3 separate regions of the Homo sapiens genome follow, and all the other regions are linked to region 2. Evidence: fine-mapped expression QTL. A gene starts in region 2. Each other region holds a variant in brackets. All regions are shown on one strand. Distances are from middle to middle. Region 1 overlaps IL21-AS1 (IL21 antisense RNA 1). Region 2 holds the start of BLTP1 (bridge-like lipid transfer protein family member 1). Region 3 overlaps BLTP1 (bridge-like lipid transfer protein family member 1).

What was found. PIP is the estimated chance that this variant, and not a neighbour inherited with it, causes the effect.
Region 1: its variant is the best candidate, but not a certain one, in a credible set for the expression of BLTP1 in monocytes (TOPMed, PIP 0.79).
Region 3: its variant is the best candidate, but not a certain one, in a credible set for the expression of BLTP1 in nasal epithelium (TOPMed, PIP 0.61).

Annotation. Positions count from the first base shown.
Region 1 is chr4:122,635,738-122,639,987 of GRCh38, forward strand. The region is part of intron 7 of IL21-AS1 (IL21 antisense RNA 1); the gene reads left to right. Among named protein-coding and RNA genes, the nearest start is that of IL21, 17 kb to the left of the region's middle. The variant C/CT (reference allele first, on the strand shown) is at 1,842.
Region 2 is chr4:122,149,863-122,154,112 of GRCh38, forward strand. It overlaps BLTP1 (bridge-like lipid transfer protein family member 1), which reads left to right and starts at 2,469. Exons shown (of 88, transcript NM_001384125.1): 1 at 2,469-2,722; 2 at 4,163-4,250. RefSeq lists an enhancer at 1,760-2,561 and silencers at 2,384-2,573, 2,644-2,723.
Region 3 is chr4:122,218,131-122,222,380 of GRCh38, forward strand. It overlaps BLTP1 (bridge-like lipid transfer protein family member 1), which reads left to right. Exons shown (of 88, transcript NM_001384125.1): 21 at 1,210-1,437; 22 at 2,203-2,340. Among named protein-coding and RNA genes, the nearest start is that of BLTP1, 68 kb to the left of the region's middle. The variant T/C (reference allele first, on the strand shown) is at 1,785.

The DNA.
Region 1 (4,250 bases), 490 kb after region 2:
ATGAGGTGATGTCTTATGGAAACAGTACGTATTTTTTTTTTAAGTGTGCACAAATTAGATAAATGTGCACAGGAAATCAGTTATTTCTCGTGGATGAGTTGGTGCCATGGATTTGGGTTCTGGCTGTGAATTTGTGTGTCCCATGTGCTTTGGTCCCTATGTGTCTGTGTATAACGAGGGCATCTTTGCTCATTTAAAATTCACTCATTCAACAAGTATTTACTGAGCACCAACTAGTCACACTTCTCATAATTTTGTGTGTGTGTGAAAAATTGGGACACTCTTTAGCTGTGTTTTATTGGGCACAATTTGCAAGTGTTTTAGCAGGGACTTCCGAGCACATCTGGTGCTTTTGTGGAAATGCAAAAAACAAAACAACTCCTTTTCTGTGCAAAAAAATTATCTTCAAAAGTACCTCTTCCTCTGCGAGGAGGAAGATGTATGCTAGGACACAGGGCTTGGTGAGGGGGGTGCACTGTAGATTTCAGACCCTACCCAACCCTCACCTGGGCACCATTTTGCAGTACACAAAAGGCATACCTGTATGTACAAACTGGTCTTAGATGAAGCCTCACAAAAATCAGTGTGAATTTTGTTCAGCTTTTGGTGGTTTGGACCTAGAGGGGAGAATTCCTTTAAACCTTGTTAGTCAAAGAATCTCTACACCAAACACTTCTGGCTCTCAGTTGTCCATCTGCCAAATGAGGGAATTATACTAAATTCCTTTTTCTCTTTTTCTGAAAAAATAAGTATTTGGTTACAATAGTAGAAAGGTCGAGAGCATGACTCCAAAGAGTCAGACTGCCTGAATTTGATCCTGGCTCTATGACTTAAGCACAATTTGACCTTGAAGAAGCTGTCTGAGCCTCAGTTTCATTATTTGTAAAATGGAGCTAATGATATTACCTAATACCCAGTTCATAGAGTTATTATGAGAAATGAGAGAATGCATGTAAAGCATGTAGTATGACTGGAAGTGAGTGCTTAATAATCGTTAGCTATCATCACCATCATTATTATGTAGTCAGTGTGATTCTGTATCTCCAGAAAACCAGGGGCGGCCAAGCCCCATCTTCTACCTAAGAGTTCTAGCATCACTCATGTCACCACCCCACAGTCTGTCTGCATTTGCCACTCACCCAATTACAACACCCTCCAATCATTTGTCTATAGTAAATAAGAGCATTCATTTTGTAAGCCTTGACAAGGCTACTTCCTCTTTCTCCTAACACTACTGTAATACCCTGCAGATGTTTGCTGCCTTTCTAGGAGAAAGTCCAGTGGCAGACAGTTTTGCCTGAAACAAATGATTGTTATTTATACTAAGACTACAGCATGCTCCCCGAAATGGCCTCTAGAGATTCTTAAAAAATATTCCCTCAAGCAAAGAAAATCCTAATGCACCTAAGAAGACAGTGTATCAGCTAGCTACAGTTGCGTAACCAACAACACCAAAACTTTAGTGGTTAAAAACAACCAACATTTATTATTTCTTATGAGCCTGTGGATTGGCTTCATAGCTCAGCTCATCTGGGGTAGGCTTAACTGATCTTGGCTGGGCTTGCTCATTTATCTGGGATTAAAGGCAGATTGGCCTTGGCTGAGACAACTCAGTTCTTCTCAACATGGCTCTCACATCCCTCCAGCAGGCTAGCCTGGTCATACTCTGATGGGGGTCCAAGAAAGAAAGTGGAAACAAGCAAATCCCTTTCCAAGCCTTTGCTGGTGTCTCATTAGCCAAAGCAAACCACATGGCCAAACCCAGAGTCAGCACGGAGGGCTAGCACCAAAGGGTAAGGATAGAGGGAGGCATGAATATTGGGGCCATTATTGCAGTCCAG[C/CT]ACACATGATGATGATTATGTCATTTTTAAAAAATAATTTCAACTTTTAGTTTAAATTCAGGGGATACATGTGCAGGTTTTTTACGTATGCATATTGCATGACACTGTGTTTTGGGGTAAGAATGATCACTACCTAGGTAGTGAGCATAATACCCAATAGGTAGGTTTTCAGCCTTTGCTCTCTTCCCTCTCTAGCAGTCTCCAGTGTTTCCCATGTTTATGTCCATATGTACCCAATGTTTAGCTCCCACTTGTAATCATAAGAGAAATGCAAATAAAAACCACAGTGAGATACTATCTCACACCAGTCAAATGGCTAATAATAAAAAGTCCAAAAATAATAGATGTTGGCGAGGCTATGGATAGAAGGGAATGTAAATTAGTTCAGCCACTGTGGGAAACAGTTTGGATATTTCTCAGATAACTAAAAACAGAACTACCATTTGACCCAGCAATCTCATGCTTGTTATATACCCAAAGGAATATGGATTGTTCTACCATAAGACACATGTACATGTATGTTCATTGCAGCACTATTCAAAATAGCAAAGACATGGAATCAACCTAGGTGCCCATATTCAGTGGATTGGATAAAGAAAATGTGGTACATATACACCATGTAATACTACACAGTAAATATTAAAGATTTCTAGCTTATAATTTCATCTAGTAGTTTCATTGTTTCAAAATTTAGACACTATTATGGTTTGTAAATATAGATATATACTCGAATGTCTTGTTTTAGTCATAGAAGATGTAACTGAAAAGCAGTACAAAACCCAGGAACAGGTGTTAGTTTCTAATTAAATGATAAAATAATGTCTGAAGAGTTCTGTTTTATTTTTGACTTTTCTGCACACCTCAGTTGAGGTGATCTCACGAAGATGTTAATTGCCAACTGCCAGAGCAGCTAAACAACCTCTCTGTGCCCCATACAGTGCTTTATGGAAGTTTCAGTCTGGGAGAGCCACAGGTTGCCCCAAAAGAGCCTATGGGCTCTGTGAATGCTTTAGACGCAGAACAGAAAGCAGGCAAACAAGCAGGCATTTAAGGAATGTTAAAGATAAAGTGAAATATTGATCAAATTCTCTTCATGATCTTTTAATTTGTACTTTTGGAAATCCACGAGCAAAGTTCTTCTAAGGCTGATAAAAATGTGAATTTCTCTCTACTGGTATAAGAATGAATCAAGCAATGAATTATGCAGTTAAATCACCTGGTAGAGAATGCCACTTAAGACAGTGTGGAAGATGAGCTCCCGTTTACACACAATTGGCTGCAACATCCAACTAAGAAGGGGCAGGGGCAGAGGGCACCAATCAAAGAGCTGGCTCCAGCTGGTTTGCAAACCCACGGTTATTATGACCCACAAGTCTTCCAAGGTGGTTGTCTATTGGAATTCTCATTGGACTTTAGCTGTAGGAGCTGCAAAAATATTCTCAAGATTAGTAAATATACCCTCTAATTACATCTCCACCCTCTGCCACAGCAACACAATTGCTCACACCCTTAAATAAACCTCCACTTGTTTATTTGAAGACACCATGTGGTCTGTTCTCTAAATATTTCACCAAATGGGCTCAACATTCTTTTATAGGACCTAGTTTCCAATAATGCTATCATTTTTTCCCTAGTTTTTCTCTAGACATCACACTTTGCTACATCTGCTCTTAAATGTGGTGACAGTGCTGTCCCAGGTGTGGTAAGTTGGGATAGTTCCCAGGCCCCACATTTTGTGTGCCCCCTCCCCCCGCCGCCACTTCCTCCTCTCCCCACAATATAATGACAGGTGACTAGGAAATGACTCAAGAGGTGGAGTGTGGAGGAACAAGAGGAGGCTTTCAGCACAAGTGTGGAAAAAAAACTTGAGGGTTTCATATATGTGTATTCAGTTAATAAACTCCTCCTTCCTCACCAAAGACAAAGATAGTAGAAGAGTCCTTTCCTCGTTCCACAGACTTTCAGAATGGACATGTCTAATTAAGATTCCTGTCTCCTTCTAAGTTTATCCTTAATAATCACTGAAACAAGAGATTGCTTATAAACTGAAAGCACCAAATGATGTGATTTGCCCACACCTGTCTCACTGCACCAACTACAATGACCCCAGGTGATAGCCAATATCTGTTATGACTCTCTTAATTGCAAAACAAGCAAATACACAAAAAACTTCAGCTTTTCTAAGTCACTTTTCTAACAATGCAGCCTGACACATGTTTCTCTTTTGATCAGTGCTCCAGTGCCCACTATATTCAGGTTTGGTCTACTCCAACTCTCAGGTCTTTTTTTCCTTGTTTCTTTTTTCCTTATTTCTTTCCTTCACTACTGAAATCCGAGTACTTTCTCACAAAAGTAGCTGAAGTGGGTTGGTTGTGTGCATGTTGAGGAAGGATATCCCTACAGGTCCAG
Region 2 (4,250 bases):
GAGTACTAGGCTTAATACCTGGGTGATGAAATGTTCTGTACAACAAACCCCCATGACACCACAAGTTTACCTATGTGACAAACCTGCACATGCACCCTTGAACTTAAAATAGAAGTTTAAAAAACAATGCTTTTTAGTGGCCAAAATTTCCTGTGTTGTTTTCCTTTTTAAAAAATCACTAGACCACACAAACAAACCTGTACACTATTGTTTATAGTAGCTTTATTTGTAATAGCCTCAAACTGAAAACAACAAAATGTTCCTCAATGGGTGAATGATTAGACTGTGGAACATCCATATATTGGAATACTGCTCAGCAATCAAAAGATCACACTATTGATATAGATGACAATTTGGATACAGTTCAAGTGAATTATGTAGAGTGAAAAAAGCCTGTTCCTAAAGGTTACACACTGTACACTTTCATTTATATAACATCCTCAAAATGATAAAATTACAAAGATGGAAGACAGATTACTGGTTGCCAAGAGTTAGGGTTGTTATATGGGGAGGAGGGGTGGGTGCATCTATAAAGGGGTAGTAAAAGGGAGATCTTTGTGGTGATAAAAGAGGTCTGTATTGTTTGTAGTGATAGTCACATGGAATTACACACGATAAAATGACATAGAGCTACATACAGACATTGTACTAATGTCAGATTCCTGGTTTTCTTACTGTACTATAATTATACAAGATGTAACTATGGGGGAAACTGGGTGAAGAGTACATGAGACCACTCTGAACTATCTTTGCAACTTCCTGTGAATTTATAATTATTTCAAATAAAAAGTAAGATATAAAAAATCACTTGAAGGCTTTCATCATTAGAGAAATTCTTCTTGGATTCAATGGAGACAGTTTCTTTGGCATCCTTACTTTAACGGCATGCTAGAGAAAAATGAAAAATAGGTGGGAGACTGGAGAAGGCAGTAAGCCTTGCCATGCAAATTTAGTGAGCCATATGAAATGTCAAAGAGCATAATTATTTTCACAAGACTAAAGGCCTTTAGAATAGAGGCTTCTAAAATAAATAATTCATTTATACAATGTCGCCTAATGCATAGCTGTAGTTACAGGGTGACTCTTGATCACAGGGATGGAAAGGAAGTAGAGGCAGAAACTTCCAGATTCCCACAGTCCCCTCACACGGTTACAGAAAGGCCATAGTGAACTTCCTTCTCTCCTCTCCCCTCTGCTACAGTGCAACTTAGTTTCAGTTTAGTTTTTGATTTGGGGAACTTGAACCATCTCTAGGTAATTTCTAGTCCAGAGAACTTGTACTTGCACAATGTCCTTCTTGGGCAAAATCCGAAGTTTGGCTGTAGCAAATTTGAATCCTTGTGGTGGTTCCCTTATTACAAAACAAAGATTGACTAGAAATCTTCCAGATGTTGAAAAAGACAACTGAAATTAATTTCTTTGTAGAGGGGCAGAAATAAACTCTAAAGAGTTAATTGACATAAGGCCAGTACCAGTGTCCAGGTAGCAGAAGGAAGTAACTAAGACAGTGCATGCTTTTCTCCTTTTGGTTTTCATCCAGTCCTTCCATAAACCACTTCTGTCTGGGCCTCTATTTCCTTATATGCAATAACAGTTAATTGTTGTACCTCGTGTGTTTTCTGGCATTATCTTAAATTTGGTTTCATATCTGTTCCTTTTGAGGTGAGAGTGGAACAGCCATGTGGAAATATTAAGGTTGTAGTAAGTACCTCAGCTCCGGAAAGAAGTCAGAACTAGAGATTTAGACATTTGGAACTTCAGAGGCAGTATACAGTAATACTTTGGAGCCACATTTCTTGGGTCCAAACCCTGGTTCTCTAGCAAGTTATTTAACCTCTCAGTGTCTTAGTTTTTCAATTTGTGAAATGGAGATAAACGGGGATGAGAATAGCCTCACAGGATTTTGGAAGGATTAGTCAATAAGCCCTGCTAAACACTGTTTACTATTGCTAGTATATAGCGCAGACAAATAAATATCTGCGACATTCCTCTAATTCCAAGAAGTCGTTTGCCTTGGTTCACCCGCTAAATAATATTAAGAGCCTTTCTCTTTAAAAAGAGGAGCAGCAAATTACTTTTCATTAATATCATCAGCATAATAATAGACTTAGTTGAGAGATTCAGCGTGGCAGCACTTCACACAATCGAGCTCTCTTATTGATCATGTCATAACAGCATCTCTATTTCTTAAGGACTCATTTCACGTCATACACCCATCCGATGCTCCTTTTTCGTTAGCCTCCGTCTCCTAAGTGGGCTTATCTGTCTCCTGCTATCAGGAAGGCACTAACTTTTCCTTTGGGTTGTTAGGGTAGCAAAGTGATTTTCAAATTCAGGGTTCTGGCTCCTTCTGCAGCCCAGAGAGGAGGAAACAGGGCGGGACGCCGCCGGATTCCTGGGCAGGGCTTGAGTGGCGCACCTCGAGGCGCCGGCGACGCTGGCGTGTGACGTTGCTGCCTGACGCAGGCGCAGTGCCGCCCGGCCTCGGTTGGGACCCCTCCCCTCCTCCTCCGCCCCCTTGGGTGTCGGTGGCTGCGGCCAGGGTCTGGACCTGGGCGGCGGCCCCGGGCGGCGGGGCTAAAGGGTGTGGGCACCGGCAGAGCTTCGCAGGCTGCATCCGGCTCGGTGCTGCTGCCGTCGCCGCCCCTGCCGCCGCCCAAGGCCCTCGGCGTTCCCCGGAGAGAGGCCAGAGGGATTTCGGGCTGCCTCGGCACTCGCCCAGGTGAGGGGATGGGCCGGGCCAGACGGGGTTGAGGTCGTCAGCCCCTTTTTCCAGTGTCTCTGGAACTCAACCTGGTCGGAGTCTGAGAGCTTTGGCTTAGTAGTGGCTGCCTGCGGCGGCGACTCCTTCATATTCCTTTGCCATCCTTACCTACAGCCCTGGCACCTATAAACCGAGGGTTGGAGGTCAGTGGCAAAGTCTGGAAGGGCCATGGCAGTCGGATGGCTGGGGACTTTGATACAGGAGCAGTTCCTGCGGGTGATGGTAAGGCGCTCCACTTGCTGGTGTGTGGACTCGGCAGGAAGGACCGTGCACCCGCAGGCTCGGACTGCAGCCTTGCCAGCTGCACTGGGTTGTAGTAGACCCCATGCTGCTTAATATAGGGTCGGTTGACCGAGGGCGGGGAAGCCTTGGAACAACCCCCGCTTTCTTCTCTGGGATTGATGTGTTTTGTATTCTGAATTGGTGCTTGCTGCACTGCACTCTAGAAGACTACGTTTCAGCAGAATTTCCTATTGGTCAAAGGAAGGTGAAGAGAAGTTGATTTTTCTTCCGGAGAGTATTAGTTGTTGTCGTTTTTTTTTTTTTTTTTTTTACCTTCCTGTTGGCCTTAGTGTTGACGTTTGTTAAAGGTAAAAGTTCATGTGAATTTCCTTTTTAAGGAAATCATGGGCTTTATAACTGTCTAAGCGCCTGTAAGTTTCAACCGGTTTAGTGGTTTCTGCTTTCACCCTGTGCATAGCAATGAAGTTGTTTTATTCCAAGTTAAATATACAAAGTATAAAAATAGATGAATAACCAGAATACTTTGTAACTATTGAGTGGTACATATAATTATGTGCATATATTATCACATTTAATCATCAAAACAATCCTATAATGTAAAGTCTACTATTCCCATTTTCTAGATGAAAGAACAGAATAGACCTACAAAGTAACATGTTCAAAGTCAGAGCTGTGACTGAAACCAGGTAATCTGACTCGTTTGCAGTCCCTTAGTCAGTATGCCATACCAACTCCCAAGCACCCTGTGATTTTGCAAGATTTTCATTTGATAAAAAGTATGCCAGGAAGGACATTATGGCACTGTTCTTGCCGGCAAGGACCCAACAGTTTGAGAGAAACTTTCTCAATGTGCATTTTGAGTTATGTTTTAAACATAGGATTTGATCTCTAGGACCTTTGATTACCAAACTCATGCTCTTAAGTACAGTGGTTTTGGAGTCTTTGGAAGGCTTCAGTTTGGAAGTTGTAGTTTTATTTTATACTTAGGAGTATTTGTTGTTTGGAAACTTTAAACAAGGAAACGTAATATTGGACTAAAAGAGTTTCGTCCTGTTTGTGCATGATTAAGTAACGAAATCATATAATCAGAAATGGTTATGCTGCTCGTAAAGCCAGAATACCTTGTATAATTAGTTAAAATGCCATACTTTTCAGGTTTGTTAAGATGAAACACTGCAGAAAGGCTATCTGAAGAAAAGTAGAAGGAAAAACAGAACGTTGCAAACTCTGGAAAAAAACTTGG
Region 3 (4,250 bases), 68 kb after region 2:
TCCATCATTTTTTTTTGTCTTGTCAAAGAACCAGCCTTTTGTTTTATCTCTTCAAGTTTTTAATGTTGATCGAACTCACTTAGACATTTATGTTATTTTTTAAAAATTCAATGTTGGAATTTAAAATATAACCCAGTGTTTTCTGTTATATTTGTGCATAAATTTGTCCATGCTTCAGAATTGTATTATAAAGACAGTTATTAAGATTTCAAGCAGGTTTCAAGTGGCATCTGTAATTAGGAGGTGGACAGCAATAGGGAATAGAGGAAAAAGCACTGGTTTTGTGAGCCGGTAGGTTTGGGATTTAAATATTAATCCCCCTACCAATTAACTGTATGACTTTAAGCCCTTCAACATTATTTCCTATGAAAAGATATTATGTACTGATGTCCATAACTCTAGTCAGAAGATAATTTTGTCAATAACCAAAGTGCAGAATTTACCAAAATACTGTCTTGGTTCTAATATTTAACAGATATGCTGACAATGTTAACAGGAATATTTAACAACTTTTATTTACTACTGAGAGATCAAATGGCCAAAATTTAAATATAGAATCAATGGGAAAAAATAAATTAAATTGAAGCTAAATTTATATTTTCATGCAAAAGAAAACAGTAGTTGAAACACTTCTGCATAAAAAACCAGGATGAACTATGTGAAAGGAATTTTTGTTAATTGTTGGTAACACATGCCTTTATCTCATCAATAACCAAGATTGGATATTTTTATTAAAGCTGTTAAAACATGCCCAATAAATATTCCAACAGGAATATGTGAATTGTACTAGTTACCTAATTGAATTTAGCCAGACTGATTTTCAGTGAATTGCTTCCCCCAAAGGATGTCCTCGGTATTGCCTGAGAACTCTGAGGAGCAGTGATTGAAAACTGTTTAACCATGCAAACCTTCAGAGGTCTCTGAGGACCTAAATTACAAGGTTTTGCTGTAATTGGGGCAATGCCATGAAGTTTTTCTATAAAATAGGCTCTGTAACTTTTTGCATTTTTTGCTACTGAATATTTGCCAAGCAGCTATGTGTAAGTCTTAACATATGTTTTCTTTTGTATTTTAAGACAATAGGCCTGATGCCTTTTTATTAAATATAATAGGTTAAGGAAATGCATAATTTACAAATTTAGGCTCATAGGTGAAAATATATTTACATACCTCTTTTGACAGCAATTTGTGTTTTCTTAATATTTATAGGAAAACTACTTTGGGGAAGATGACATGTATATGGATTTTGAAGAGGTTATCTCAAGTCCTGTTTTGTCACTGTCAACATCATCCAGCTCTGGGTGGACTGCTGTTGGAATGGAAAATGACAAAAAGGAAAATGAAGGTTCAGCCAAGTCAATTCATCCACTTGCCTTGCGTCCTTGGGATATTACTGTACTTGTTAATTTGTACAAAGTTCATGGGCGTCTTCCTGTTGTAAGTGTTTACACATGAAAGTAGTCTGGAATATATTATAACATCCACCTGTGTATAGATGTGAAGCATTCAGCACACACTTAGAAAAAGAAAATCAGATTTAGAAACTTCTAAATTTATTCTTTTACTGTTATAAAACTCATGTATTTTCTTCATAATATGATTACTTGATCATTGGTAATTTTTATTTTCTATTTTTCTTCTAATTTAACTTTAGCTCCTTCTTTGCTATATGTGTAATGTCAGGACATCGTGTCATACATTGAGTTGTTGGGTTTATAATTAACCTGATGGGTGTTCAAGGACTTTACATTTTCTTAGCTTTTATCTCTAGACCCCAGACCAGT[T/C]TGGGGCCTTATGGTGGACCTGTTATAAAATGGAGTTTCTGGCTTGACCCTGGGGGTTGAATTATGTAGTTTGGATCTAGCACGGTATCCTGGGTCGCTCTAAGGACAACCTGTGGACCTGTTCTGGCTGACATGGAATGATATTAAATTGCCCCAAGAACCCAGGGACTTTGGTGCAGGGCCAGATGAGGTGTGTGTCCGGGTTGCAGTGGGGTGGTGGGGCCGGTGGCCCTCTGTTGCTTAGTGCAGCTAACGATCCTACTGAGGTACAGAATAGTTATTTTTCTCAGTAATCATAGTTTCTCTGTTTTTGAAAAACAAATTCTCTTAATCATGACAGATGTAATTTTTATTTTCCTATACTTCCTTACTTTTTGCCTTTTCTGCATTTCAACTGTGCTATTTCATTTGACTGTAGCATGGAACTACTGATGGTCCTGAATGCCCTACAGCTTTCTTGGAAAGACTATGTTTTGAAATGAAAAAAGGATTTAGGGAGACCATGCTGCAACTTATCCTGTCACCCCTGAATGTGTTTGTCAGTGATAACTATCAGGTAAGGTGAAAATGAAATATGGTGGAGACATAGAGATTTATTATTAATATTTATTGGGTTAAAACAATGTATTAGCTTCTGTGCATGGACTTTGTAGCTCTTTAAGTTGGAGACTTTTAAGTTAACTGTATTAAGAAGTTTTGTATGTATGTTTATGTGTATGAGAGTTGTTTCAAGAATCTCAATTTTCTTTTGCTGCTCCCTATTTCTGTGATCCCAATTATATTTTATACCTTTTGCTATTATAATAGAAATGGAAATAAGTACTTTCTCAAATATTTATGGAAGGGAAAAATTAACTATATAAAATGTTGGTAGGTTCTGTTGAGTATCACAGCATAAATGTTAATATTAACCAGTACCATAATATTTTAAAACGTGTGTATCTACATGATCAATGATTTATTCTTATTCATCTAACATAAGATACTTTGTTAATTCCTTCAAGATACCTCTGGGCTCTTTTAAAAGAGAACCAATGATATTCATCAAGTGAGAATTTGAAAATGTATTACATTTCTGGGTAGATTATAATTTTATTATTTTTTTCATGCCAAATGGCTTTCTGTGGCAACTACCACCACTTTATATGCCCCTGTCTTACTTTTAATCAAGTTGTGTGATTTAGAAATATAAATGGAACTTAATACAAGACAAAGTAAAATTATAAATGGGAAGGTGAATCTGACAACCAGAAATCATCAATGAATGATCATTTATTATGATTATATGTAGTAATTGATCATTTTATTTAAAATAGCATATCTCCTTTTCATTCTTTTGCCATCACTGACTATATTTTTCTTCATGGAATTTTAATTTAATTTTTCATACATATATTTGACATATATGAGATCATATTAGCTAAAACTTAATATGTGCTAGGCATTGTTTTTGTTTTGCCACAGAATGTGTGTTTCTGGTTTTAAACTTTTATTTTGAAATAATTATAGTTTCACAGGAAGTTGCAAAGATCAGAGCGATCCTGTGTGTACTCTTTACCCAGTTTTTTTCCATGGTTAAGTTATTTTACATAATTATAGTATCAAAACAAGGAAACTGACGTTGATACAATGTGTGTGCGTAGTTCTAGGTCTTCTTATCATGTGTAGATTCATGTAACCACCAAAATGAAGATACAGAACTATTCTGTCATCACAAAGATCTCACATAACACATTATTTTAACTTGCCATATTAACCTTAAAAAAAAAAACCTCTTGTCCTCTCTATAATTAGCAGGTCATTAGAATCGGTTGTTTTTTATTCTGGGAGGCAGGTATGTGGAGAGGAAGCCCATCTCCCTTTTTCAGTCTATTAAGGAAATTAATAAAGGGAAAAGGGAAAGTCTTCTATGGATGAGTTCTGAGAAACTTAGATGACTATCCCTGGTTTTTTATGAGTACCTGGTAGCCCTTCAACTTTTAATCACTGCACTTTTAAAAGGCTTTTCCAGACATAGAAAACATTTTATTGAGCTGATTATGAATGTTCACATTAATTCTTATTATAGAGGTATGCAAACTTGTGGAGAGACTGAATTATAAAGTATGACTTATTTGGGGATTAGAGAAGGAGTTCATGGAGTAGAGATACCAAGGTGAAAGTAGAAGTACTAGTGATAATTCATTTCCCCGATTGTTGACAACTTACCCCGAAGACAAAGGTACCATATATATCCTCTTGGAATTTGCTTGTCTACTTACCTTGTTTACATTCTATAGTGTTGACACGACTATTCCTAAGAATTTTTTTCTTCATCTGTCGTTATACTATCTAATGTTCTTTCACAGTGAGAGGGTTCACACTGTGTCTACTCCCAAGGCTCAAATCTGGGTTACCCACTTGTAGTTTATCCTGGGTAGCATCAGTCTCTTAACTCAAGGCTTCAAGATGAAGGTTCTAAGGTGA